Linked DNA regions of Homo sapiens. The protein of the gene in region 4 purifies or fractionates together with the protein of the main gene of each other region. This does not show direct contact. Each region holds a gene or a part of one and is shown on either strand. Other genes may lie near its edges.

Evidence for each region.
Region 1: the proteins of GDI1 (region 4) and RAB8A purify together in Homo sapiens (co-immunoprecipitation; 7 studies listed by BioGRID and IntAct, with this or other methods). This does not show direct contact.
Region 2: the proteins of GDI1 (region 4) and RAB5B purify together in Homo sapiens (affinity purification with mass spectrometry; 4 studies listed by BioGRID and IntAct, with this or other methods). This does not show direct contact.
Region 3: the proteins of GDI1 (region 4) and RAB10 purify together in Homo sapiens (co-immunoprecipitation; 5 studies listed by BioGRID and IntAct, with this or other methods). This does not show direct contact.

The regions. Positions count from the first base shown.
Region 1 is NC_000019.10:16,128,889-16,135,758, reverse strand, and holds the end of RAB8A (ras-related protein Rab-8A), read right to left. Parts: intron 6,206-6,870; coding exon 6,155-6,205; intron 3,548-6,154; coding exon 3,455-3,547; 3' UTR 1,525-3,454; downstream 1-1,524. UniProt on the Homo sapiens protein: The small GTPases Rab are key regulators of intracellular membrane trafficking, from the formation of transport vesicles to their fusion with membranes.
Region 2 is NC_000012.12:55,990,054-55,997,183, reverse strand, and holds the end of RAB5B (ras-related protein Rab-5B), read right to left. Parts: coding exon 7,086-7,130; intron 6,503-7,085; coding exon 6,380-6,502; intron 5,825-6,379; coding exon 5,731-5,824; intron 5,088-5,730; coding exon 4,972-5,087; 3' UTR 501-4,971; downstream 1-500. UniProt on the Homo sapiens protein: The small GTPases Rab are key regulators of intracellular membrane trafficking, from the formation of transport vesicles to their fusion with membranes.
Region 3 is NC_000002.12:26,134,449-26,138,343, forward strand, and holds the end of RAB10 (ras-related protein Rab-10), read left to right. Parts: intron 1-489; coding exon 490-573; 3' UTR 574-3,006; downstream 3,007-3,895. UniProt on the Homo sapiens protein: The small GTPases Rab are key regulators of intracellular membrane trafficking, from the formation of transport vesicles to their fusion with membranes.
Region 4 is NC_000023.11:154,439,454-154,443,967, reverse strand, and holds the end of GDI1 (rab GDP dissociation inhibitor alpha), read right to left. Parts: intron 4,028-4,514; coding exon 3,829-4,027; intron 3,594-3,828; coding exon 3,462-3,593; intron 2,873-3,461; coding exon 2,773-2,872; intron 2,346-2,772; coding exon 2,174-2,345; intron 1,858-2,173; coding exon 1,713-1,857; intron 1,595-1,712; coding exon 1,540-1,594; intron 1,449-1,539; coding exon 1,296-1,448; 3' UTR 501-1,295; downstream 1-500. UniProt on the Homo sapiens protein: Regulates the GDP/GTP exchange reaction of most Rab proteins by inhibiting the dissociation of GDP from them, and the subsequent binding of GTP to them. Promotes the dissociation of GDP-bound Rab proteins from the membrane and inhibits their activation.

The DNA.
Region 1 (6,870 bases), on a different chromosome or scaffold from region 4:
GAGAAGGGCATGACTGGGAGAGGCCTCTGCAGAGGTAGCCCTGGATAACCATGATGTGATGGACAGTGGGCTTTGCACATTTCAGGAGACTACAAGACTAGGGTGTGGCAAGTGCAAAGGCCCTGGGGCCTTCTCAGTGATGAGTGTGGAGTGAAGGAGTAAGGAAGGAGAGGATTGGAGTGGAGTGAGCCAGGAAGGGCAGCCAGAGAAAGAGGAAGGAGTAGGCAGGGCTATGGCTGCAGCGTGTAGAGGCTTGTGCCCCACGGTGAGGGGCGTAAGTTGTATCCCTAAGCCCAAGGAAGACCTGGGGAGGTTTTTTGTTTTTTTTTTGAGAAAGGGTCTTGCTCTGTCACCCAGGCTGGAATGTAGTGGTGTGGTCACAGCTCACTGCAGCCTCCAACTCCTGGGCTCAAGTGATCCTCCCTCCTCAGCCTCCTGAGTAGCTGGGACTACAGGTGCATGCCACCATACTATTTTTTATTTTTTTGAGACGGAGTCTTGCTCTGTCACCCAGGCTAGAGTGCAGTGGCGCAATCTCGGCTTACTGCAACCTCTGCCTCCCAGGTTCAAGCGATTCTCCTGCCTCAGCCTCCTGAGTAGTTGGGACTACAGGCGCGTGCAACCATGCCTAATTTTTGTATTTTTAGTAAAGATGGGGTTTTGCCATATTGGCCAGGCTGGTCTTGAACTCTGAACTCCTGACCTCAGGTGAACCACCCACCTCGGCCTCCCAAAGTGCTGGGATGAGGCATGCGCCACTGCACCCGGCCAATTTTTGTACTTTTTTTTTTTTTTTTTTAGAGATGGGGTCTCACTATGTTGTCCAGGATGGTCTTTAACTTGAACTGGCCTCAAGCTATTCCCCTGCCTCTGCCTCTCAAGGCACTGGGATTATAGGCATAAGCCACACACCCCAGCCCCTGGGGAGAGCTTTAAGCAAGGAGGTGACACTGATTTCAGTTTCGTAAGGACACTCTGAAAATAGTTTGAAACACAGAGGTGAGGACCTGAAACCCATGAGGAAGTGGTCACAGAGGTCCAGGTGGTCGTGGCTACAACTCGGGAGGGGTCAGCTGTGGGCACGATGGGGAAGGCAGGGATGGAGTCCAGGGTCAGGGCTGTGTTATGCTTACGGTGCCGATGAGACATTCAAATTGGAATAGAGAGTGGCAGGTGAAACCGACCTGGGTCTGGCCTGGATTTGCAGCTTGAAAGCCACTGGCCTATCTAAAAGCATAGTGTGTGCAGAAAAGAATGAATAGATCTGAGGCTGCTTCCTGAGAAAGGCCTGCTGGCAAGGTGGGCCTGCAGTTGGTAAAGTTCCCTACGGATATTAAAACTTCCCTACATGCGTGGCTCATACACTTTCTGTACAAGTGATGCGGTTTATGCTAAACCCCTGCTTTCTTTGTAGGAGTCTGGAATCCTGATAAGTGCCAGGTAGAGGGTTCCTATGTGACTGGCTCCATAAACACCTGGGTACAGAACTGCCAACTAGCTTTCACAAAAGACACATTACACACCTGTTGTTACAACTCATTGTTGGGGGAGTTAAGCATGGGGTGTGTGACCCCACTGTGAGAGGATTCTGGATGCTTCTGTCTGGTTGCCTCTGGACTTCACTCTGCATGCCTTTTCCCTTTGCTGATTTTGCTGTGATCTTGGCTGTGAGTACAGCTCTCTGCCAAGTCCTAGGGAATGACTGGACCTGGGTGTGGTCTTGGGAAGGACCCTGGATAGAGTGGAAGGAATGCCCTGGAAAGCCAGCCAGGAGAGGGCCCCTAGAAGGACCTGCCAGGGAGGCAGGAGGGACACAGTGGCCGAGCTGTGTGCCAGAAGCCAGGTGACGCAGGCTCACCATGTTGGCCAGGCTGGTCTCGAACACCTGAGCTCAAGTGATCAGCCCGCCTTGGCCTCCCAGAGTGCTGGGATTACAGGTGTGAGCCACTGCACCAAGCCAGGAGGCTTCTTTTCCCAATTTAGTCTTTTGATGATGGGTGGCATCTCCTCTGAGGTGGCCGCTCGATGGGGTAATCCATGGGCTCTACCATCTTGTCCAGACCCACCCCCAGCACCTGGCCATGTCCGTGTGGCCTACAGGGAAAATGTGGACATAAAAATCCTTGGACTTTAAGATGAGCTTTAATTTGTTTGTTTTCCTTAAGTGCATTTATCGATGTAAACAGAGCATGTTAGAGATTCCCGGGGAGAGCAGACTATTGCTGATATGTTGGTTTTAATTCAAAAGAAACGATGATGCCAATGGTTTGGATTGACAGCAGCTTAAGGAGGAAAAAAAAAAAAAGAAAGAAAAAAAGAAAAGGCTGGTGACACCCCCCTGGCGTGGTTGACCTGGTCCCAGTCGCAGTCCCTATGGGACAGCAGAGCTGTCAAAACAGAACCCAATGATGACGGCTGAAAATCAAGCCAGACTGCTGTGCGGTCAGCTTGCCGCCGTGGAATGCCTTGTGTCTTGGCCATGTCCAGCCAAGGGTACAACGTGCTTGTTCCCGATCACCCAGGTTTGCCATTGGAAGTCAAAGACAGAATCGCTTCATGGCACTACAGATGTGGAAAAATAAAAATCTCAGCTAGAAAGAACGTCCGATTTGGAGATAGCGGGAGGACACGAAGGAGTGGGGGCCATTTTGGTGCTGAGAGGAGGGTGCCCCAACTTCAGGAGGACCATGTGACGGCTGTGGTTGTTTTCGGGGTCACTTGCAGCACACACAGCGTCCCCTTGATGCTCGATGGGGACCGCAGACGGGCCTGCAGACCTAACCCCTGGCTGTGGACAGGAGAGGCTGCTCCAGGCTTCTTTCCTTCTCAATGCTTTACACAGGATTTCCTTCATTTGTGCTTTCCTTTGGTTTAACAGTTAAAAAAGAAGAGTGAGGGGGCAAAATGGTTTGTCACTTGTCCAAAACTGAGAGAAGAGGTGGAAGTGGGCGCCAAATCTCCTGGGTGATGCTTCCTGGTCCTGGCGATCGGTTGCCTTGCTCAGGGTTTGGGAGCTGTTGCTCCTGGAACCACCGCTGGCCTTCTGGGACCTCGCTTCCGTGGTAGGGGACGTGAACCAGCCTCCTGGTGGAGCTTTGTGTTGCAGTGAGGCCACAAAGCAAAGGCCCAGAGGCAGAGGCCTGACACTGGCTGTGGTCGACGGTCACACCTTGACTCCCTCTCTCTCTCTGAATATACAACGTGTGGGTGGGCCCGTTCAGCAGATGTTACAGGAAAAATAGCAAATTTTTAACTTATTCCATCTCCAAAGTTGAAAAAGATCAGACAGTTACTAAAATAAACGATTTCTCAATTGCATTCTGGTGGCCGTGGGCCCGGTGGCCGCGGCGTGGGCGGGGCGTTGGAGGTGGGAGGGCCCCGGCTGAGTGAGGGGCTCACTCAGAACAGGCACAGTCAGCTGGGCTGAGCGAGGCTCAGAGTAAGGCGGTGTTCCTCACAGAAGAACACATCGGAAAAAGCTGCTCCTCTTCTGCTGGTCCGGTGTGATTTTGACTCCCTGGTTGCTCCCCTGGGGGCTGTTGCCTTCCTGAAATCACAAGAGGTTTTCTGAGGTTATCACTGAGAATCAGCACTACGTCTCACAATCAACCAGCCATCCACCTAACCATCCACCTAACCATCCATCCAACCATCCAACCAACCAACCAACCAACCAACCAAACAACCAAACCAATCAAACCAGCCAAACCAACCAACTAACCAACGAGCCATCCAACCATCCATCCATCATCTGCCAGGTCATCCATCCATTACCATTCCAGCCATCCAACCAACCAATCAGCCATCAAACCATCCATCCATCATCTGCCAGTCCGTCCAGCTGTCCCCTTCCAACCATCCAACCAACCAACCAACCAACCAACCAACCAACCAACCAACCAACCATCCATCTATACCCTTTCAACCATCCATCCATCCACTCACCCATTCCCTTCCATCCGTCTATCCACCTGCTTCCAACCAACAAACCAATCAACCAACCATCCATCCCTTCCAACCAAGAACCATCCACTCATCCATCCCTTTCCAACCATCCATCTTCTTCCAACCATCCATCCCCTTCCAACCAACCAACCAACCATCCATCCCCTTCTAACCACCTCATCCAACCAACCATCCATCCATCCCTTTCCAACCATCCATCCACCCATCCATCTCCTTCCCCCCATCCACCCTCTTCCAACTAACCATCTCCTTCTAACCACCCCTTCTGACCAATCAACCATCCATCCATCCCCTTCCAAGCAACCACCTCCTTCCAACCAACCATTCATCCATCCCCTTCCAACCAACCAACAAACCAATCATCTATCTATCCAACCATCTCCTTCCAACAAATCAACCATCGATTTATTCCCTTTCAACCAACCATCCATCCATTATCTTCTACCCATCCATCCAATTCTCTTACAACTGATAATTCGTTTTTCAGAAACAGATCTATTTTCCATCTGCTATATACCACCCCTTCCAACCACTCTCTCACTTATCTGCCCACCCCATCATACCCTTCCCAGCACTTTGGGAGGCTGAGGCAGAAGAACTGCTTGAGCCCAGGAGTTTGAGTCCAGCCTGGGTAACAAGTGAGATCCTGCCTCTTAAAAAAGAAAAAATGGCCAGGCGGGGTGGCCCACACCTGTAATCCCAACACTTTGGGAGGCCGAGGCAGGTGGATCACCTGAGGTCAGGAGTTCAAGACCAGCCTGACCAACATGGTGAAGCCTCGTCTCTACTAAAAATACAAAAATTAGCTGGGCGTGGTGACATGTGCCTGTAATCCCAAGTACTCGGGAGGTTGAGTCAGAAGAACCGCTTGAACCTGGGAGGCAGAGGTTGCAGTGAGCAGGGATTGCACCATTGCACTCTAGCCTGGGCAACAGAGCGAGACTCCTTCTCAAAAAAAAAGAAAAAGAAAAAAAATTAGCCAGGCATGGTGGTGTGTGCTTATAGCCCCAGCTACTTGGGAGGCGGAGGTGGGAGGATTGCTTGAGCCCAGGAGTTGAAGGCTGCAGTGAGCTGTGATGGTGCCACTGCACTCCAGCCTAGGTGGCAAAGTGAGACTCTAAAAAAAAAATCTCTTTTTTAACTAATAAGAAAACTAAAAGAAAAAAGAATCAGACCTTGACCATTATACTGAAGAAAAAAAATTGCAAGAAAATCCCAAATTATTGTTGGTCAGTGCACTGGTTTCCATGAACTGTTTCCCATTTTAATTTAATGGCCAAAGAGCTGCTATTAAATCAATCACATGCCTCACTGTTCAACACACCGCATCTTAGAATTACAAAACAGATTTGCTTACATCAGATGTAAAACTTGAACGGCATTTTGTATTTTATGTGCATTCTCAAGTGACCAGACTTAACCCACAAATAGAGCGCCGTGTGCTCCTCGATTGGACAACCAATGTAACATGGCCGGGAAAGGGCAGTTGCTGGAACCAGGGCGAGGGAGGAAGGGTCACTACGGTGTTTAGGCACTAAATGCCCCCAAAGTACAGGGAAGTGTTTGATTCCATCAAGAAAGCACCATTGATACTGAGCGCAGCGGACTAGGAAATCGCTAACGTGGTAAAAAAAAAAAAGCAAGAAACGAATGAGAGGGTAGATGGGTAGGGATTCATGCAGACTTCCCTGGAGGCCTCAGAGAACCCTGGGACACAATGAAGGTTGCAGAGCTGTCACAACTTGTAGCATCTGGGGCTGGGGTGGAGCGGGGGCAGGTTCTTGATCTGCCATGCTTGTCAAGACGATGAGCCAGCAGTTATCAGACACCAGCCCTGGCCCTGCCCAAGCGACCTAGGAAGCTTTTCTCCGAGCCATGGCTCTCTGTCCTTGCACACCATGTTGTCTTTCTGGCCCTTGAGTGGAATGGAAAAGGCCGTGTGCTCCCTGCTAGCCTGGGGATTCACCGGGCACGGCCTTGTCTGCTTGGGCAGCGTCCCCAGGCTGGCACTGCCTGATGCTGATGCCCCAGCCACACCTGCAAACTCTTCCCCCTTTCCCAGCAATGTCCCATGGGGTCTGGCTGGGCCCTAAAAAGCAGGATCTAGGGCACGTCATATCACTGCTGCTAACGACGATGGCTGGATCCCAGAGATCCACCCGGGGATCTCGGAAGGACACACACTCACCAATTTTTTGTCCATTTTTGCTTTGATATCTCTGGCGAGAGTGAAAAATGCCTGTGGAATAAGCACATTGTGAGTCCTTGGGATGGCAGGACCCTGAGTCCTCAGCCGCCCGTGTACAGCGGGTGTGGTGAGACAGCTTCCCAGGCGTGGGCCTCCCATTTGGCCCTTTGATGCCCGCCTCTGGCAGTGGGTTCATCTGGCCTGTCCGGCCCCAGCTCATCCTTCCCCGGCTCCCTCTGCCTCCCACCCACCCTTACTCTCTGACATCAACTCTCACTTCCGCAGAGCACCTTAGCATTGACGGGACTTTACGCATGTGCCACCTCCCCTAAGCCCTGTGAGATGGGGCGACACTCAGTTGGCCAGAGAGGAAACTGAGGCTCAGAGAGGCCAAGTGACTTGTCCAAAGGAACCCAGCAGTTAACCGACCAATCCAGAAGGATCTAGGAGTGCCCAGTTCTTTGTCTCTGACTCCTAGGTTCTGTCAGCTCTGGCCTCCCTTCTGATGGTCAGGGAAAAAGGCAAGCAGCTCTGTGGCCAAACAAGCTTCACTCGGAGTCCTTGCCTGGCAGGGCTGGGAGCGGGAGCAGGTTCATCTCCCAGCACAGCCAAGGGTTGAGCTGCTGTCACAGCCTTGAGGAGGGGACATACAGAGATGGCGGGAGGCGTGATCCCAACATACATCCCCATGATGTGGGAGGTTCTGGAGAGGAGAG
Region 2 (7,130 bases), on a different chromosome or scaffold from region 4:
CATTGGCTGGAACCCGCCTCCTGGAGCCGAGACAGGCAGGTTGCTAAGAAGCCTGGGAGAAGAGGCTGGCTCTTTTTGCTGTCACTCTCGCCAACAGTCCGGAGTCCATTATACCCCTGGTGTGCAAAGAATGGGACCCTTGTGCACCAGGGCTGTATGTCCGGAGCTCGGGCAGTGTGGAAGGTGACAAGGAATCCAAAAGTTGGGCTGACAGGTGGGAGATTTTGAGACACCCCTGCCGCCCCTCCCTGGAGGAGGCCTCGGGATCCAGTCCGGTTTTCCCCGGCTGTGATCTCCACTTTAAACCCAGGGTAGACCTACCTCTATCTACTCTGTTGCAACTACAACTACCCTGTTTATCTTTTAGGGAAAGCAAAGTCAATCGCTTAGTTCTCGTATTCCAGGAATGATAACAGAAATGCCTAAAATAGTGGTTCCAAGAATTTGAGATTCCTTGGGCTAGTCGAATTTCTCCCCAAACAAAAATGAAACAACAACACTGAATAGCCGTCTTTTATTTTGCGTAGAAAAAAAAAATAATAATCGCCCCTTGGTGGCACACGCCTGTAGTCCCAGTACTCGGGAGGCTGAGGCGGGAGGATCGCTTAAGCCCAGGAGTTCGAGGTTGCACTGAGCCAAGATCGCGGCACTGCACTCCAGCCTGGACAACAGAGCAAGACCCCATCTCTTAAAAAACAAACTGCCCCTTAACAAGAGCAATGGCAGCTTAACACCCCGAAGTATGAAGGTTGTAGTCTCTTATCTCAAAGTAAGGGGCATAAATATAATACATTTCCTATTACCCTTTTGTCATTTGATGCAGGACAAAATTTATCAAACCTAGTCCCCCAATCTGGACAAATGTATCCATACACTGCCCTCTAGAGGCCGGACGGTGGAGCTGCAATTTTAATCAGTTTAAGTGAAGGTGTTCACCTTTAATTTTGAAAGATCATTTCCTTTCCTTTCGGCTCTCCAACTAGAGCTTTTACCAGGAATCAGGGAACGGGGGTGGGGGGTATTACCAAGAGATATAAGGTAAGGGAACCGACAGTGAAAAGTTGGCAAGTTGGCTTTGGCTCTTAAGTGTTTGGAAATGGAAAGGATTTCAATCTGTATACAATCAAATCACTGAAGAAGGCTAATGCCCAACCTATCCTACCAGTTGTTAAAAAAAAAATATATATATATATATATATGTATATATATATGGAGAGAGAGAGAGTGAGAGAGAGAGAGAGAGGGAGAAAGAGGGAGAGAGAGAGAAAGCGAGCTTCAACCTAAAAAAAAAAAAGTCTCAGCCAAAGGAAGATACAGAGAAGTCAGTTAGGGACTATCTAAAAGCCTCCTTCCTAATAGTGTCATCTACTTTTGTGTGACACACATACTTTACATAATTGACCTTAATCTTCAGCTTTTACTTTACAGATGAAGAAACGAGGCGGAAGGCACTAACTAACTTGATCAAGGCCACAGCTGGTTAAGTTGACAGAGACAGGCCTAGAATGTCAGATTTGTCTGGCACCAGTCCTCTTTCCTATCCACCTTCAGATTCTTTGGAATTTAAAGCCTACTGCAACCACACATAATCCTATTTCATTTCCCTTCCCTCGACCTTTAGACTGTGGTGGACTGAAGGGTTTGAAGTACACTAGGAGTCAAGAGCAGATCCAGAGGAAATTTTCCCGTTGAGGTGGAAGCTACAAGAAAACTAACTCAGTGATGTTTTTCAACCTTTGGGTCATGGACCCCTTTGAGAAACATATAGAAATGGATCCTAGAAATATGCACATACGGCCGGGCGCAGTGGCTCACGCCCGTAATCCCAGCACTTTGGGAGGCCAAGGTGGGTGGATCACGAGGTCAGGAGTTCAAGACCAGCCTGACCAACATGGTGAAACCCCGTCTCTACTAAAAATACAAAAATTAGCTGGGTGTGTTGGTGCGTGCCTGTAATCCTAGCTACTCAGGAGGCTGAGGCAGGAGAATCACTTGAACTCAGGAGGCGGAGATTGCTGTGAGCCAAGATCGTGCCACTGTACTCCAGGCTAGCGACAGAGACTCCGTCTCAATTAAAAAAAAAAAAAGAAATATGCACATACATTTTTGTATACTACTTCAAATAGCACCCCTCTCTCTAATCTGATCAGTGGGCCCAAAGATCCACAGACCATACCCTACACATATACATTCTGTTAAGAGGGCCTAAAAAGATATAATAGGGTTTGATTTGATGAACAATCTAGTGGCCTTAGAAGAGGGGTGATTAAATAGCAATAGAAGGGCTATTTTCTAAACTAGATGTTTAAGAAAAGATTAAAGGGAATAAAGATGTATCAAGATGCAGGGAAAGGTGTGTTTCTGATTCAGTAGAACATTACTGGGTATCCTTTCTTCCAAATTCCTAGTACCTGACAAATAGCAAAAATAATAATAATAATAACAATAAAATAAAAAAAAGCAACACTCCAATGCCCTTTTCTTTTTTTCCTTTTTTTACTTACATTAAATACATCGGTAAATCAGCAGTCGCATTCTGTTACCACGATTGTTATGTTGGGAGAGGAAGAAAGGCAAATGCTTTCTCAGAAGCAAAACAAAAACAAAAAACCACAACACCCCCCCTTAAAAAAACTGACCAGAAGAAAAAAATGAGCTGGGAAATAAACAAAAGAAAACTAAGATCCCCAAGCCCAACAGAGCTCAAAGGAAGGCAGAAGAGGTGGTAGGAAGTAGAGGGAAGGCAGCCGATAGGCCCAGAAGCTAAGGCCAAATCCTGTTCCTATGGGGGTGGGGGGAGGGAGAAGCCTGGGGAAGTGGTTTCCCAGGCCCAAGATAATGAAACATCTTCACTCCTGCTCCAAGGGGGAAAGCTGCACAGAGAAAGAACTTCATTTCTAGAAGACTTTGGAAAGCCATCCTAGTTCTTCCACTTGTAAAAAGGATGCACTGGGTGCTATGGGGGGCCAGTGGCTTCTGGGAAAGGAAGGGGGAAATGTGTGTGTTTCAGGGCCATGGGAACTAAGGCTGCCCCTGGAAAAGGAAGGGAATTGAGGCCTAAGTGGAAGAACCTAAGCTGGGTCCTTCAGAATCTCAGCTTCATAGATTTCTCAGCTGTTCTGGGATAGAAGGCAGTCTGCAAGCCAAAAGGGCAGGAAGGTTCCAATCCTAGGTCACTGTGACCTTTCCTTTCTTTCTTTCCCAAAACTCCGGGCTGGAACAAGGAACTTAAAGTTCTCTTTTGCCTTGATGGCTTCTCAGAGACATCTTAAAACACCTGATGAAGGATATGAAGAGAGACTAGAGATTTAGAAAGGACCAAGGTCCTCTGATAATATGAGCCAGTTGTAAGGTACCTTCAGTGCCGGTCATTCCCTCTCCACAGGAACAGGTGGTATGATACGAGGGCACCACAGGAGGCCTCTGTGGTACTAGCCCCTATTGGTACATGGATTAAACCACTGGTTGCATGATGGGGAGGGATGGGGGGATTAAGGATGGAGGGACTAAATTCAAGATATTAACAAAGGAACAAAGAAACAGGGCCTGATGGGAGGCAGAGGATAGAACAGACTGTACAGTGGGAATAAAGATCATACCTATTTACAAGGAAGTAGAAAAGACATGGTAATGGATATCAAATTGAGTGTGAAACCTGGGAAAGGACAGAAAACTCCTCCCTTTTGCCTGACCTCCTTTTTACTCCCCTACCTTGGCCTGTGCTATCCTGAGACACTCCTCAATTGCTCAATTAATTCTCCAGGAAAGGCAAACCTATAGTCAATAGTTAGCTTGGCAAGAATATAGGTTAATAATTAGAGTTGGAGGAAGCTAACAGTGGAGATAGGACTTGAGTAGCTGCCACTGGTAGTTTTATCTATAACCTCTCCTCGAACCTCGCATTAACCTCAGATTTCATTGAATTAAAAAGAAGGTGGGAGGGCAAGTAAATCAATCAAAACTTCCATAAAACAAGTACCCCAACTGAACTACCATCAATTAAAGTGCAAACTGCAGGGGTATATGGTGGCTGGGGCTGAGGCCATCTAAAGGCCAGAGGGGAAAAAATGCATATGTATAAATCAGAGGATGGGTACCAGAAACTGTCCCTCCTCCAATCAGATCACAGCAGAGCCAAAGATGCAGGCAACCAGTGAAAATTCTTTGGAAGACTCTGGGGTCCAACCCCCACGATTAGGGGAAACGCTACCTAAGAGGCTGCGTGAGGGGAAACTGGGCCTTTGAAGAGTTACAGAGCCACAGTTGACACTGCACCTCCACCTCCGCCCAGTTAGCTTACAAGGCACCTCCTGCCTGGTGCCTGAGATCTTGCCTCCCCATTCTCACCTCTACCTAGGAACACCCTCCACAAGGCCAAATCATGGATACCGCAATGTTTTCAAATATGAGAAACTCCAACCAAATAAAAACAAAAAGGAAATGTTTCCTTACTCCCTCCTGCTCTGAGCTTTATTCTCCCCCAGGGCCCTTAATGTAAATGAACTGGAAACCTCCTTCCTCAGTTCCTGGGTTCACCACTTTCTGCATCCTGGGGAGAGGAGAAAAGAGGCTCAAGAACAGGGACTGACCAAAAGCAGAAGGGGAAGGGACAGGAGTCAGAAGTGTTTTCTGAAAAAATGGGGAGGAACACTAGGGAGGAGGAGAAAAGATACGTAAGTCGCTGTCTTGTACCTATAATACAAAGTGAAGAAAGTTTGTTTTGGAAGGTAAGTCCTGGGGGGAGTTGACCCCCAAGCCCCAGAGTAGGGGGTAGGAGGCCAGTGGCAACAGCTGCCTGGTGTTTGTTGCTGAAGCGTTAAAAAGTGCCATGACGGAGCTGTCAGGAGGCAGCCCTTGGGAGCCAGGGCTCAGTGTGCTGTTACCGTAGGGGTTGTGTGCTGAGGGGTAGGGATGGAGGTTATTTCTTAGCTCTTGTGCTAGCTCCATACTTGTTTGCTGCTAGCCACCCCCTCAGTTGCTACAACACTGGCTCTTGTTCTGCTGGGACTGTTCATGGAGATCCACACCCCGGCTTCGGCCTGCTGCACCTCCCAGATTCTGGGGTTCACTCTTTGGCAACTTCTTAGCTAGAGATAAAAAGAGAAGAGAACAAAGTATGGTAGACTTTACTTCCCTACCCCTCTGCCTCCACCCGCCAAAAACGGCTACTGAATTGGGGAAAAGGGAGAATTTGAGAGATTAAAAGAATGTTCTGAAGATGGGAGGGTTCACTATTTGCAAACTTTTTTTTTTTTTTTGAGATGGAGTCTCGCTCTGTTGCCAGGATGGAGTGCAGTGGCACAATCTCGGCTCACTGCAACCTCCACCTCCCGGGTTCAAGTGATTATCCTGGCTCAGCCTCCCAAGTAGCTGGGACTACAGGTGTGCGCCACCACGCCCAGCTAATTTTTGTATTTTTAGTAGAGACGGGGTTTCACCACATTGGCCAGGATGGTCTTGATCTCTTGACCTCGTGATCCGCCCGCCTCGGCCTCCCAAAATGCTGGGATTACAGGTGTTAGCCACCACACCTGGCCGGCAAACTTACACATTGAAGACAAGGGAGCTAAAGCTGCAGCCAAGGATGGAGGTCATAACAGAAAGTTAAGGTATTTCCATACCTAAAGTTTTTGCAAAAGGAGATACTCGCACCTATCCTTGATTTGGGTTAGCTATAATTTTGCCTATAAACGAGGGAAAAAGGAGGACCTCAGGATGTTCTGACCTTACCTATTGCCAGGAAGAGATCATTCACGTTCATAGCTGTCTTGGCTGAAGTCTCCATGAACAATAAGCTGTTGTCATCTGCATATGCCTGGGCCTCCTGCAAGGAGTGGGATGTATTAGTGCTCAGAATGTAGGGTGGGAACGAGTATTGCCTTTCCACTCCCATGCAGCACAACAGCTAGGCAAAATCCTAGGTTCCCTCCCCTTAATTAATACCCCTTTGAGCCAGCTAGCCTAGATGCATAATTTAATGACAACTCCCTCAAGATGACCCCATGTCCACTCAGTCCAACACACAAATGTCAGAAAGCTTAATTATAGGGGAGAGGGTAAGTTAGTTGGGGGCTTTTGGGTTGTGACACTTGAATAGTCCCTTACCACAAATTTAATTGCTCCCTCCTTCCTGTTTTCACACTGGTACCCCCACAGCTGGTACCTCCCTAACCCTCTGCTCTGGAGTTTTCTCCTGACTCCTTTGAAAATCTCCTGGCTGTCATTAGGGTCACAGTGTTGCTGTATTTAACTTGGTGTAGAACTGGGGAATGAGACAATGAATGTCCTCTGTTGACGTTTTCAGAGAGGGCTGGTTTGGAAAAAAAGAGGTCCCAGGAACAGAGGAAGTGTTAGAGAGGAACTCCACGGGCCACCTTACTTCATACTCCACCATACGTTTGTTGGCCAGGTCAGCTTTGTTCCCTGCCAGGGCAATAACGATGCTAGGACTGGCCTGTCGCTGTAGTTCCTTCACCCATGTCTTTGCTCGGGCAAAGGTTTCCTAGGAAAACATGAAGAGAATGAGTAGGCTGGAATGACTGCCAATCCATATCCATCACCTTTTAAAATGAGTCTCAAAATTCACCTCTTCTAGGTGGTCTTCCCTCAGTGAAACCACAGGTCTCTGATAATTCATTATCTGTCTTCTTAGCACTTGGAAGCATAATTTGTACTCTTATTTGCTATTTCAAGAACCCGTTTTCTGCCCCCTTACCCCCTGCCCCAAACTAACTCCTCTAAATATAAGCAAGGACAGTCTTTTTTCTTTTTTTTTTGAGGCGGAGTTTTGCTCTGTCGCCGAGGCTAGAGTGCAGTGGCTCGATCTCGGCTCACTGCAACCTCCGCCTCCTGGGTTCAAGCGATTCTCCTGCCTCAGCCTCCCGAGTAGCTGGGACTACAGGCGCGCACCACCACGCCCAACTAATTTTTGTAATTTTAGTAGAGACGGGGTTTCACCATGTTGGCCAGGATGGTCTCAATCTCTTGACCTCATGATCCTCCCGCCTTGGCATCCTAAAGTGTTGGGATTATAGGCGTAAGCCACCATGTCCAGCCAACAAGGACAGTCTTCTTAGCTCACTTACCTGATTAGTAATGTCGTAAACCACGATTGCAGCTTGGGCACCCCT
Region 3 (3,895 bases), on a different chromosome or scaffold from region 4:
CTACATTTTGCTCCACTCCTTTTCACTTAATCAGTTGAGGTTGCCTTTTTAAAACTATGATACAGTAATAAAATTGGTCTAAAAAGGCAGATAACAGAAAAGGGCAGTTTTATTTCTGTGACGTTACATATACCTAACACTGGTTTCATACAACTTGCTCCACAATGCCTTTTAAGTACTAAACATATTCAGAGGTCAGGGCTAGAAGATAACAAAATCTATTTAAGAGTTAGAGCTGAGAAGATTTCAGAAGCTTTATAAAGGCATGCCAGGAAATGTCTACAATATTTCACAGCTTGGAGGAAGCAGGCAAAAAGAAAATCAAAACAAAGCTTCCAAATCTTTACTTTGCACGGAGGGGAAACCTATCTCCTGTGATTGTAGTTGTATTTTGTTGTATAAATTGACATAAGAATATTCCTGTTGAATCGTGATTTTATCCATGGCAGTGTTTTTTCATGAGTTATTTTCCTTGTGTGTTTGTTGCAGACCCCTGTAAAAGAGCCCAACAGTGAAAATGTAGATATCAGCAGTGGAGGAGGCGTGACAGGCTGGAAGAGCAAATGCTGCTGAGCATTCTCCTGTTCCATCAGTTGCCATCCACTACCCCGTTTTCTCTTCTTGCTGCAAAATAAACCACTCTGTCCATTTTTAACTCTAAACAGATATTTTTGTTTCTCATCTTAACTATCCAAGCCACCTATTTTATTTGTTCTTTCATCTGTGACTGCTTGCTGACTTTATCATAATTTTCTTCAAACAAAAAAATGTATAGAAAAATCATGTCTGTGAGTTCATTTTTAAATGTACTTGCTCAGCTCAACTGCATTTCAGTTGTATTATAGTCCAGTTCTTATCAACATTAAAACCTATAGCAATCATTTCAAATCTATTCTGCAAATTGTATAAGAATAAAGTTAGAATTAACAATTTTATTTTGTACAACAGTGGAATTTTCTGTCATGGATAATGTGCTTGAGTCCCTATAATCTATAGACATGTGATAGCAAAAGAAACAAACAAAAGCCAGGAAAACACTCATTTTCGCCTTGAATATGTAAATGGGATTAATTTTGTCCTGTGCCTTATGTGGAAAGGAACTTCTTTGGTTTTCCTTTTTTGTTCTGGTGGAAGCATGTGCAGGAGACATATCATCCAAACATAAACCATTAAAATGTTTGTGGTTTGCTTGGCTGTAATTTTCAAAGTAGTTAATTGAGGACAAAGGGTAATGCAGAAGTGATAGCTTTGGTTTGCTGAGTCTTGTTTTAAGTGGCCTTGATATTTAAAACTATTCCTGCCACCATTTCTTCTCCTTGGCCACTTCTTCCTTGCGTCTCCCTGCATGCTGCTTTATTTGCTTCTCCCTCCCCAACCACCTCATGGTATATTTAAGAGTGAAAGGGACAAACTAGTAGGTTTGTCAAGTTTAATATAAAGCACTGATGTAACTTGCTAGGTAAACGGAAAGATAAGTTCTAACTGCCTACTATCCAATGTCAGTTAATTGGTGTCTTCCCCCCTCATTTGCTCTCTTCCCTAAAATGTGTCCCAGATGCCTTCATTTGCTGTTTTACTTCTATGTTCTGCTTTTCCTCCTCTCTTTGTTCCCTTCCTGTCTATCCATTGAGTTTATGAAATGGAAGAGTTAACTGCATGCACTAGTGTTTGGAGGGTGTTGTGGTTTGTCTTTCTAATTAGGTGTATAGCCTATTCACTTTCCTAGAATAAATCTCTTAACCTAAATTTGAGTAGTCTGCATTTTGGCAACTCCTCTAGCAGCTTGGTAGCCTAGTACAGGTTGTTTTTTTAAAAAAGGAAAAGCAGGAAGGAGGAGTGAATTTTATTAACATGTTTGCCAAATGTATTGAGATTTGGCCTCTGAAGAACACTTTTTCAGTGTTAAGTTTCTTTACCTTAAGATTCAGAAATACTTTAGAATATTATTAATTTTAAGTCCTGTCTTTACATCCTTTTGGAAAACTTGTATTACCATGGGTTTGGAAAAAGGACAACGAAAGGCTTTTCATGTAAAGATAAGATCTTTAGCTATCTCTAACCCTGTCCTTTTTTCACTGCATTTTTTCTAGTTTTGCTTCATTGCTTATCATTAGGATAGGGTAAGTGAAGTTTGCTATGCTGCTAGCATCCTAAGATGATACCTTTGTTGAAAGAATTGTGAATAGCATGATTCATTTCTAGCAGAGGCTGAGTTTAGGACAGCAGCTTCCATTGAGAAGTCTTTCTGTGTCGTGAATAGCATTTTAATGACCTCTTGGCTCACATAAGCAAACAACATAGGGACGTATCTGCTATGAAAATCCACAAATTTTTCAGATAGTGCCCTAAAAACAATTTTATATGCCTCACTGGTTGTTATTCTTAGGTTATTCCCACACTTGACTTTATCATTGTTTACTACTAGTAAAAAGCAGCATTGCCAAATAATCCCTAATTTTCCACTAAAAATATAATGAAATGATGTTAAGCTTTTTGAAAAGTTTAGGTTAAACCTACTGTTGTTAGATTAATGTATTTGTTGCTTCCCTTTATCTGGAATGTGGCATTAGCTTTTTTATTTTAACCCTCTTTAATTCTTATTCAATTCCATGACTTAAGGTTGGAGAGCTAAACACTGGGATTTTTGGATAACAGACTGACAGTTTTGCATAATTATAATCGGCATTGTACATAGAAAGGATATGGCTACCTTTTGTTAAATCTGCACTTTCTAAATATCAAAAAAGGGAAATGAAGTATAAATCAATTTTTGTATAATCTGTTTGAAACATGAGTTTTATTTGCTTAATATTAGGGCTTTGCCCCTTTTCTGTAAGTCTCTTGGGATCCTGTGTAGAAGCTGTTCTCATTAAACACCAAACAGTTAAGTCCATTCTCTGGTACTAGCTACAAATTCGGTTTCATATTCTACTTAACAATTTAAATAAACTGAAATATTTCTAGATGGTCTACTTCTGTTCATATAAAAACAAAACTTGATTTCCAGCTGTGTGGTTTGGTTTTCATTTATTTATGGAATTGGAAGATTACTTCTGAAAAAAATGTGGAATCGCAAACTCAAAGAGTTGACAAAAATGGGAAATCACTGTCAACCTATGGAAAACTGGAAAGGCAATTTCAAGAACTGTCTTTGCTGAGAAACTACATTAAAAAATAGAATTATCTCTGGGATCCTAAAGCGGAATCATCCTTGTGCCAAAATAGGAGATGCCACGATCCTAATCACACCTGGCTTACACTAGTTGGATGTGCCTAAGGCCACTACAGCTGAGGTCACCTGATTCCTCAGGGGGACCAAGCTGGGCTCCTCATACTGGAGGGTAAATCCTTGTTTTAGCAGCAGCTGGCCTCTTACTAAGAAACAAAGTATTGGCCAGGTGCGGTGGCTCATGCCTGTAATCCCAGCACTTTGGGAGGTCAAGGCGGACGGATCACGAAGTCAGGAGATGGAGACCATCCTGGCTAACGTGGTAAAACCCCGTCTCTATTAAAAATACAAAAAAATTAGCCGGGCGTGGTGGCGGGCGCCTGTAGTCCCAGCTACTCGGGAGGCTGAGGCAGGAGAATGGCGTGAACCCGGGAGGAGGAGGAGGAGGCTGCAGTGAGCCGAGATAGCGCCACTGCACTCCAGCCTGGGCGACAGAGCAAGACTCCGTCTCAAAAAAAAAAAAAAAAAAAAAAAAGTATTGGCTGGGCGCTGTGGCTCACGCCTGTAATCCCAGCACTTTGGGAGGCCGAGGCGGGTGGATCACCTGAGGTCAGGAGTTCAAGACCAGCCTGGCCAACATGATGAAACCCCGTCTCTACTAAAAATACTAAAAGCCGGGCGTGGTGGCGCATACCTGTAATCCCAGCTACTTGGGAGGCTGAGGCA
Region 4 (4,514 bases):
TGAATTCCCCAGCCCCTCGCGCTGCCTCGACGTTAACCCGAGCCAAGGCTGGGCCCCGGTCCCTCTAATTCCTCCTGGTGACCCCAACGCTGGTCCCCTGGCTGCCCTAGTTCCCCCGCATTAAGCCGAAAACTGGCACCCGTCTCCCTGCTTCACTTAGAATCCCATCCGAGGCTGGCCCCTGGTCCCCTCTGCCCTCTCCTTTCAAGCCAGAGGCCAGGACCCCCGCTCCCTCTGCTTCCTCCACGTTGACACCCGCCCTCCACCACACTCCCCCTGCATTGAGCACTGAGGGCTGCAGTCCTGGTGCCAGCATCGACTCACTGGGTAGCCTTAAGCTTTAAGTCAATTTGGCCCCAGCGTGCTCTGGGTGAGGAATTCCCTGGTGAAGAATGCCACCTTTTACAGTCCAGAGTGAAGCTAAGCCAGAGCCCCAACCCAGGCAGCCAAAGCCCTGCCAGGTACCCAGCTTTTGGGAGATAACCATCAAGATCCAGAGATTCAGGTTTCAACCGTTTTATTGGGAGGTTTTGTTTTCTGTGAAATACACTAGAGGGTGGGGAAGGGGACACATTCACTTTGCAAGATAAGGGTTTCCCACCACTAAAGGAAAGGCATGGGGCAGGGCACACTGGGGTTTGGGTCCGTTTTCCCACCTCCTTCTGCTTGGCTCACTTTTCTTTTCTCTCAGCAAGTACCACAGAACACAAAGACAAGAAACAAAACAGCAAATCAACCTCCAACGGGGCCATGCCCAAGCCTTCCCCACTCCCCCAGGCTGGGCAAGGGCTGGGAGGGGCTGGGGCAGCTCACTCGACAGCCCTCAGGCCACACGGGAAGGCTGCAGGCTCAGAAAGGGTGGGTCAAAGTTAATAAATTAGAATAAATTAGGGGGGAGGAATGCAACTTTGTGCTGGGAGGGCCCCTTCTCTCCAACACGCGAGAGTTGGTGGGGGGGAGGTGGGGGCATCTCCAAAGGCCACTACAGTGGGGGTAAGAGCGGTGGGGGCAGAAGTCACCTTTTCCTCCACGTCTTCCCAAACAGAGCAGAAGAATTAGGGGTGGGGGGAAGAGACACACACAAGGAGAGGAACCCTCTTTTCCTAGGATAAGGAAGGGCCAAGAAAGAGGATGCTATCCAACCCCCCATCTCCCAAGCCATCGCTAGGGTTAAGGATTTGGTCAGTGGATCAATGAGGTGGGTGATGGGAACGTGGTGGGGGAAGCAGAGGATGCTGGAGCCCTCGAGGAGAACAGACACAGGCTGGGGCAGCAGGGGCTGGGGGCGGCCACAATCACTGCTCAGCTTCTCCAAAGACGTCGTTCTGTTTGCGCTTCATGTTCTCAAAGTCAAAGGCCGTGCCAGCCATGCGTTTGTAGATGTCTTTGATGTCGTTGCAGGTTGTCTCAAAGTGTGTGGTGGCATCGTAGGAGCAGGAACAGAACACCTGGAAACAGCCAGAGCCCAGCGCCCAGGGTGAGTCAGACAGGTATCCTGGGCGGGCAGCCAGGAGCCCAGGGCTGGGACGAGCTGCTTACCTGGCTCTCACAACCATCATCAATGGGCTCATACAAGTCACTGATAGCCACAAACCTGAGGGGCAGACAGAGGGGAGGGGACAGGCCTCACAATGGGCCATGCCCTTCCTGGTCCCTAAGCCCAGCTGCTGGGCTCCCTCCCTCTCCCCCTTGGGCTCAGCCCAGTCCCTCACTTCTGGTCAATGGGCTCCAACAGCTCCAGAGCCGGCTCCACCTCCTTTTCAGGGTCCGTGGTCTCCACAGTAGTGCTGGCAATAGCTATGTACTTGCCCTGGGCCGCCACGTTGTGTGCATAGGAGATCATGCACACGTAGATGTCTGGCCACAGGAAGAGCTCCGTCAACTCAGGCCAGAGGCGCTGGCCATACGCAGAGAGGGGTTCCAGTGGCTGGACACAAGTCTGGCCCGACTGCCCCTCCCCAGCCCCGCAGAGCAGGTAGCATCCAAGCCGCCACCCTCCCAGAGGGAAAGAGTCCAGGCCACCCAAACCCTAGGGCTCCAAGTTGTGGTGGCTACAATGTGGCTCAAATTTTTTTCCAGAGAGGTAAGGCAGGGAGCTCCCACACTGATGGGGAGAAAAAGAGTAACCCCAAAGAGAACACCCTAGAGGAAGCTGTACCAGCGCCCGGCCTACCTGACTTCCTGTTGACCTGGTTCTGGGGGATGATTATTTGGCAGGAGTTGGCGTCGTTGGTGTTCTTGATGGGGTGGCTAAGGATACAGATGATGCGGATAACCTGGCCAGCCTTCCGCACACGGTCCGGGATGTAGCTGGGGTCACAGATCAGCTGCTTGCAGCGGGCCACCTGAGAAGGCACCAGAAGTCCTCGCCCCTGTCACATCCCTCCCTTAGGTAGACGTGGGGCTGCGCTCACAGCAAGGGCAGGCAGCTCTGGCAGACAAGACGTTCCTCGGAGCCATCACTACTGCCCCTCCTGAATGCATGGCCCTACCCTGCCGCTCAGATAGGTGGGCCTTGACGCACGGGCTGGGTGCCCGCCCCCCCGCCCCCCAGAGGCACTGTGATCAAGAACACTTTCTGCACCACAGACATGGCATGTGGCCTCTGAAAGAGACCTCTCACCCACAGTCATGACTCTGAAGACTTCTGGACCCCCAGTTCCCAGCTCCAAGACCCTTGGGGCTGTGCAGCAGGAGACTCGACAGCACAGAGAAAGTGACCAAGCCCCGCCTCAACCATGGGACTGCACTGCATGCACGGGAAGGGCTCACCTCTCCCTCAGACTTCACGCCCACCACCTTGCCGTTCTCCATGATGATGTCATCCACAGGTTTGTTCAGCATATATGTCCCCCCATAGATGGCACTCAATCTGTGGTGAGAGCAGCTCCGGTGAAGGCCCCTCCCAGGAGAAACGGGGACCAATTCCACTGCACCCTTCCTCCACCAAAGTGCAAAGAAGGCTGCCCCAGGCAGGCAGCAGGTAGGAGACGCCGGGATTCATCCCAGCTCTGTCACTGCCGTGAACGCTGGCCCCATCTCCGCGGGCTCTTTCCTCTCTGGAGCTTCTGCTCAGAATACACTGCCAAGGGCCAGCGGGAGGGGGCATGAGGGATCAGTGCTCCGCACCAAGACAGCCTGAGGGACCAGAATGGACTCTCTGGAGATAGGTCAGCTCCCAGCTAAGCCCTGACTCAAGGTTCTGGGACCCTGGGCCCAGTCCTGGTGCTGCCGGGAACTGAGCAAGTCACATTTGTGGAGACTCGTTTTTTCAAGTGTGGAGACTTCTGTACTTCAGTGCACTGGGGTTGTGCCCTCATCACCCAAGGATGGAGTGAAGTAAATGAAGAGCACGAATTGGAAAGGAGGAAATACTACCAAGAAAATGCTCAAGGCGGCCATCTCCACTCCTGGCCCTAGTCCTACTCAGCTATGCCAACTGAAAAAACCCATGTCCTCACCTTGCAAAACCCTGGGGCAGCTCGCCCAAGCCGTAGAGCGGGTATAAATATGGGCTCTTGCCATACCGGGCCAGGGACTCACTGTACAACTTGATGCGGTTGACGGTCTCAAGGCAGGGCTGGTCCAGGTAGCTGGGGGAATAGCAGCACCCCTGATTTACCCCCACCCAGGTACCAGGCCAGTCTTCCCACCACCCTGAATGGCCTGGGGAAGATGAGGATCAAATGCAAGGGGGAAATGGAAAGGGTGATAGGTGAGCCTGTGGCTGAGTACAAGAGACATGCGGGGCAGGGGGACAGCAGGCAGGTGTGGGAAGGGTGGGGGCGGGCCGGGCGAGGGGGCTGCCACCACCCAGCTTCCCCTCACTCATCAGTGCGGTAGAGCGCCAGGGCATGGCCAGTGAAATCGATGACATCCTGGCCCAGATCAAACTTCCGGTAGACGTCACGCATGCTGGTAGTCTGGGGGTCAACGCCCTCAAAGGTCTTGGGGTCATTCTCATCGAAGTTTGCCACAAACACCAGGAACTTGCGGAAGCGCCGTTTCTCAAACATGCCCATCAGATCTAAGGAACGCGGCGGGAGGAGGTTCTGCATCAATGCAGCACAAAACTCTCCATCCCAGCAGGGCAGGCACCCCCACTCACAGCCCAGCTGTCCTGTGATCTTAGGTTAACCTCTCCACCCTTTTTAGCCTCAGTTTCCCCACCTGGATGAAGAGGGGATTGGCCTGGATGGGCTCTAAGGGCCTTCCTGGCTCAGACACTTGGCGATGTCTCGGGGATTCAGTGGAGGCCCTGCCAAAGGCTCAAGTTTTTGTTTTTTTTTTTGAGATGGAGTCTCCCTCTATCGCCCAGGCTGGAGTGCAGTGGTGTGATCTCGGCTCACCACAACCTCCGCCTCCCGGGCGCAAACCATTCTCTTGCCTCAGCCTCCCGAGTAGCTGGGATTACAGGTGCATGCCACCACACCCAGCTAATTTTTCGTATTTTGAGATGAGACGGTGTTTCACCATGTTGGCCAGGCTGGTCTTGAACTCCTGACCTCGTGATC